Homo sapiens: one gene and its partner. The protein of the gene in region 1 purifies or fractionates together with the protein of each later gene. This does not show direct contact. Each region holds a gene or a part of one and is shown on either strand. Other genes may lie near its edges.

Evidence for each region. Proteins that work in one complex are often made in the same cells at the same time.
Region 2: the proteins of COL11A1 (region 1) and LAIR2 purify together in Homo sapiens (co-immunoprecipitation; one large-scale study listed by IntAct). This does not show direct contact.

The regions. Positions count from the first base shown.
Region 1 is NC_000001.11:103,098,523-103,102,022, reverse strand, and holds part of COL11A1 (collagen alpha-1(XI) chain isoform A preproprotein), read left to right. Parts: intron 1-3,500. UniProt on the Homo sapiens protein: May play an important role in fibrillogenesis by controlling lateral growth of collagen II fibrils.
Region 2 is NC_000019.10:54,508,509-54,511,187, forward strand, and holds the end of LAIR2 (leukocyte-associated immunoglobulin-like receptor 2 isoform a precursor), read left to right. Parts: intron 1-526; coding exon 527-577; intron 578-2,017; coding exon 2,018-2,061; 3' UTR 2,062-2,179; downstream 2,180-2,679.

The DNA.
Region 1 (3,500 bases):
CTTTGGCCTACTACTAACTTGGCTAGTGGTTCTTTAGACATTGGCTGATCACCAGACCTACTGTTATCTGGTAAAATAAACTCTTTGCTTGCTGCGCATGGAATTAGAGACAGTGCTATTAATTTAGGAGAAAGAACTTAGAGAAAGGAAAGGTTATCATATTTCAGAGTAAGAGACCAGCTTAAATACGACTTGACAATTGAGAACTAAAACAAACCTGTGTAAAAGTGCTTTAGCACAATTAACTTTTGCAATCCCCTCAAATCTTCTTTTTTTTTTTTCTTAAAAAGCATTTCTTTCTTATTTTAACCAAATTTAATTGCTCTTGAATGGCTCTGTACTGTACAGGCAAATGAAGCTCCCTATTCATAGAACTTGAGTGCACAGAGTATCAGGGGAAGCTTCCTTCCTCTGTTTGACTGGTAAACTGACATCCGGGCTTAAAGGAGTGAACCTTAGACTGTGTGAGGTAGTTGGCTTTCCTTCCTCACTCAGATTTTCACATAGACTCCCTGAAAGGATGACTGCCAGAAAGAGCAGTAGCTTGCTAATAAGAACTCTAGTGCATTTTCATACTTGGTGCTCTTAGGTAGCTCTGCACAGAAAGAAAAAAATGTAAATATTGAAGTGGTGTCTGTCTTTCCTTTACTTCTGTCTTTAGAGTCTAAGAGTGGAGCTCAACCTACTGCTGACTGTTACTCTTCCTTTTGCATGCAAATGAAACTTCAATTATTTCACTGGCTTTTAGGATAAGTTTGTTGTCTAATTGGGTTAGAGTGCCCTTCAGGATGTGGCATATCTTTATGTCCAGGCTCAAGACCAGCCATTTCCCACCTCCCCAAGCCCATTTCCATTTACCTTGCACTTTAGTGATGTTAAACCTCTTGCCTGTGTTCTCCCCTATCTTTGAACACTCACCCTGGAATGTCTATCTCATTCTCTTCCATCAGCAAACACCTTCTCCTACTTTATACTTCGAAATTTAAGTAAAATATCATAGCTCCAGAAAACTTTTCCTTATATCTCCAGGTGAGCCCTAATACCAAATACATGCTCAGTATGTACAAGGTTCTGTCATATGCACTTTCATAGAGAATCTTATTTAATTGAGACAGTTTTCCTGGAAGTAAGCTGATATCAAAATACTGATTTTACCCATGAGATAACTGAAAAACAGAGAAGTGAAAGATTTTGCCTAAAGTCACACAGCTAGTAAGTAGTAGACCCAGAATTTGAATGCTGCCAAGCTTTCTCCAAGGCCCTTGCTTTTGGCCACTTGTCCATGTTGACTTTGCTGGGTGTTCTAATGCTTCTATACAGCCTCCTAGGCTTATCTTATTATTATGGTGCCCTGGGGCCTAATATTAATGTACACATCATGCAGCTAAACCACAGAAAATACCAGGTCATTGGGTGAATAACTTGACTGCCTTCAAGGAGAAATAAAAAGAGGTTCTGGTAAAAGGTGATGTTAGAATCCAGATAGCTCTTCAGCCTGCACTTAAGTTCAGTGGTAGAGACCATATTACTCTTACCATTTTATGGACAAACCTCAGCCTCAGTGGTAGTGGAGGATTGAAAGGGGAGTTTCTGGGAGCCATCAAATATTAGTTTTGTTCCTTTGATTAACTTAAGGAGAAGCTGACAGATGTATCTGTTAGTATTCAAAGTTCCAGTTGTGGTTGGCTTGGTTTCATTAAGTAAAAGAACTCTTATAGATCATTGCTTGTCCTAATCAGGATCCATTATAAAGGTCATCAGGACTTATTCTACTTTTGGGGATTGGTGTATGGAAGTTCTCTTAACTGTCTTCAGCATAAAAAATGTCAGAGTTGATTATCCAAAAGCTTTTTTGGAGTGTAATCAACTGAGAGAATGTAACATCATTATTTTAAAAATTACTCACTTATGTCAGTCTTCTTCTAGGAGTTCCTGGGTGGGTAGTGACTGTGATCTAGTTTTATTTGTGTCCCCAGTGTCTACCATGGTGACAAAATACACAGCATTGATATAGTAACTATTTAGGTTAATTATATTCTTTTTTTACCCAGAAGACTGGAACAAGATTAAAATTGAGTTAGCTTGGAATGGTGTGAACTGAAAGTTTGAGGACCTCCTCAGATTATGCTGTTGGTAGTGACATGAGTAGTGACTCCTCTTTTTTAAATTCATTTGCTAAAAGTAAATAAATTTCAATTTACCTCTAGCTTTTTCATATGGAAAACAGTTCTGCATTCTCTCCAAAGGTGCCACTGAATATTTGTAGCTACAGAGTGACTATATTACCTCCAAAACTTTGTTTTGTTAATACCTTAAGATATGTAGTGGTATTGACCGTAGCATAAATCATCATTTTACTTTTCTACTAGTGAACAAGAAAGTTTAATCTGAGAATAATATCAATCTGTAAAATCGATCATTGGAAATAGTCCTCTCATATATTCATTATTGAACCTTTCATCTCAGATTGGTATGCTATTGGGGATTAGTTGTCTGACTTTGCTTATTAGCTATTAGAAATAGCAGTTTATCCATATATAATATATATATATATATCCATATATATAATGTATGGATGTGTGTGGGTACATGTGCATGTGTGTATAAATAAAGTGCTTTATGTTTATTTCAATAAACTCATTCTTCAAGTTAGAAAGTAAATTATATGTTTTATGTATATTGGAATTATTATATTATGAAGTACCATCTCCAAACAAGAAATATATAGAGCTTCAAAATGCTTAATAAGATTAATAGACAATAGTTGTAAAATTCTTTTGGAATATAGTTACATAGTTTTTATACTATATTGCTATCCATGGTATATTTTAGTTACACTAAAATCACTGGTATAGGTATGTTTATCTGATTTATTTCATCTAGAACAGAATCCATCTAGAACAGAAAGCATCTAGAACAGAATCCACCACATAGTAGGCATTTGGTAAAACTTTGCTGAATGAAGTGAGGGCGTTGTTGACATTGCTAATGACTTGATTGTCCATAACCTAACCACCTGAGATGTGATATATAGCTATGTGTATCACCTACTCTCAATGTCTATGGAAGTATCTTGAACCAATTTCTGCTGATATTATTGTGATTTCCTGAGACTATCAGTCTCTATTTTGGTTCTAGGCCAACCTATGACCTCTACCCTAAGCACTCTCCCACTTTGTTATTTCTGAAAGTAAAAATCCTCTTTGCTTGAGATTTAGATATTGTCTCCCTCTAGAAATAACTTTCTTCAAGCATTGAAGATTGGGGTAGTTAGCCTGGCATAACATTATAAAGCACACTATACTTATCCAAAACTCAAATACTTATCTCAAAATATTTTTGATGGTATAATGAAAGCAGGAAATACATCTTTTTCACTGATGCAAAACATTCTGGCATCTGTCACCATATCTAGAGGAAAATAGATAGCCAGTAAATATTTTTTGAATGAATGAACTCATAAGCAAGATATTTTCAATAAAGTCAAGAGGACTGGGGTC
Region 2 (2,679 bases), on another chromosome or scaffold:
GGGATGAGTGTCTTTTCACACAGGATTGATGGTCCCATTTGTTATTCCTTTCCACTGAGCCAGAACCTGCCCCAGGCAATGTGCTTCTCCTGGTGTGGTTCATCTCCCACTGGGCAGAACACAGGGTCCAGGGATGGCCCCTGACCAGGGCGGGACAGTGCTTTGGGAAAACCTTTGGTATGTGACCACATGCACTCCTGTGTGTGCTCAGCCCGAGATGTCCTGGAGTCAAAGTCCACTGGAGAGGATCCAACCCATCTTCATGTCCCCCCAGGACCTCAGCAGTCCCCTGAGGTCAAGAAGAGCTTGTGGTGGGAGGAGCAGAGGGAGTGACCAGCCCCAGGGAGAATGGGGCAAGCAGCGGGGCTCTCCCCAGCCTCCTGTCCCCTGCCCCGTTTTCTCAGGAGTCTCGAGACATTGTCTGGGATTGCGTGATGGTCATGCGGCCTTTGGATGGGGGCTCAGGGTGGAGGAGGGCAGGTTGGTTGGGACGGGTTCTAAATCCTTCTCCTGCCCCTGTTTACAGAAAGCTCTGGAGGCCCGGACTCCCCGGACACAGAGCCCGGCTCCTCAGCTGGTCAGTAGCAGGGCCCTCAGCTGGAGGGGATTACAGGGGAATCTGTGCTGCGGATGCTGTTCCGGGTCCAGCCCTCTGCCCTGGGCTTGGAGTCAAGGTCTAGGGAGGCCACGGGAAGGCACCGACACCCACCAAGCTCTGGGAGGTCGCTAATGCTCACAGAGACCATAGCAGCAATGGTACAGTGATTGCAACCTTGTTCCATGCCAGGAACTGTGGAAAGCACTTAATGCAAGCACCACTTAATGGGGGAGGTACTAGTCTGATCCTCTAACTCCTCCTCCTCTCTAATATGCAAAACATAAATTAAAGTTTCGTGCTTAACGGCACAAGGCCATGAAGGGGCAGGGGCCACCCACCCGGGCAGCCCCACCCCAGACTTCCGGGCTCTCCCGAGCTCCACGCTGCCCCCTTGTGGGCGTGGCCTCACCATTCACCCCGCTCTGCACCTGATGGAGGGACTTAGAACTCACCTTCCAACCTGGGACACCCGGAGAGGGACGGGGCTGCTCCTGTTGGCTCTGTGATCTCCGGGGGAGGCCTGAACGGTGGAGTAAGGTCCCTTAAGAGGAGGAGGGCTCCACAGGGAGGGGACGTAGCTGTGAACGGTGACCAGGATGAAGCCATGAGGCTTCCCTTCCATCTGGCTCTGCCCTGGACTCTGTGATGGGAGAGAAGCTGCCTCTGGCTCTGCCCCTGGACTCTGTGTGATGGGAGTGAAGCTGCCCCAAGTCCCTGGGTCTCAAGTTGTCCATCTCCGCCTGTGATCTGTGACCAGAAACTGCCAGGGGAGGACACGGGGTCATAAGCCATTCGCGGCCCCTTCCCCACCTGGGTTTCTATCCCCAGAGTACGTCCTTGGACCTAGACCCGGTGACTGCCTGTGAGGCTCGGGCTGTGAGCTCAGGCAGGTGGGACCAGGGGCTGAAGCCACATGGGGAGGTGGGAGGAGCGATGCCGTGCTCCATCCGGACCCCCTCAGAGGCTCCTGGGCTGCTGGGGCACAGCGGGACATGCTCCTGAGTCCCGCAGACCTGGTTCAAGTCCAGTGTCTGGTTTTTATTAGCCTTCTGTCTGCGGGAATATCTTGCCTCTGTTTCTCTCCCTCTCTTCTTCTCCTTCCTTCTCTCTTCTCTCACCTTCATGCAGTGACATATAAAGGTCACGAGGGCAGACCCTCCTGCAGCCAGATTGCTGGGTTCATGGTTCAAATCCCGGTGGTTCTGCCACCCCCTGGCTCTATGCCTGACGGTGACTCACCCAAACCTCCTGTGTCCCAAATTCCTCATGTGAAACAGAGGCAATAGAAGAGCTGTCCTGGTAGAATCGTTTAGGGCAGACTTGAGTTCAGGTACACACGGCGCTGACATCAGTGCTGATTAGAAAACCCCAAAGGAGGGATGCTCCTATTAATACTGAGGAAGTATTTTGTCCTCACAGGGACTGTGCCAGGCACTGAAGCCTCCGGATTTGATGCACCATGAATGAGGAGAAATGGCCTCCCGTCTTGTGAACTTCAATGGGGAGAAATAATTAGAATGAGCAATAGAAATGCACAGATGCCTATACATACATATACAAATAAAAAGATACGATTCGCAATGGAGAATTTCAGACCTATCATTTCAATTATATTAAATATGTTCACGTAATGTATTACATATATAAGGAACATAATTATATAATAAAAATATGTTAACATATCACCACATATCACTATAATTATATTATATGAAAGATTTATTTACAATATATAGTACAATAAATTTCAGGTGTTATTATAATTAATAAACAGGTACAAACATAAATATATATTATCTATTATTTATAGATTATAATTATAATAGAAAAATTTTATATTTAATTATATGTTTATATGTAATATACATTATACATTATATATTATAGTGAATATATGCAACATATATTATAAGTATAAATCATATACAATTAACATTATATACATTAAATTATGATGTATATGTCAAGATTACATAATTTAATATATATTTGTTATATATTATACGTTTGCATAATACATGATACATATAACTATAAATAATATAAAAACTGTAATATTGCACATATATAATACATATGTA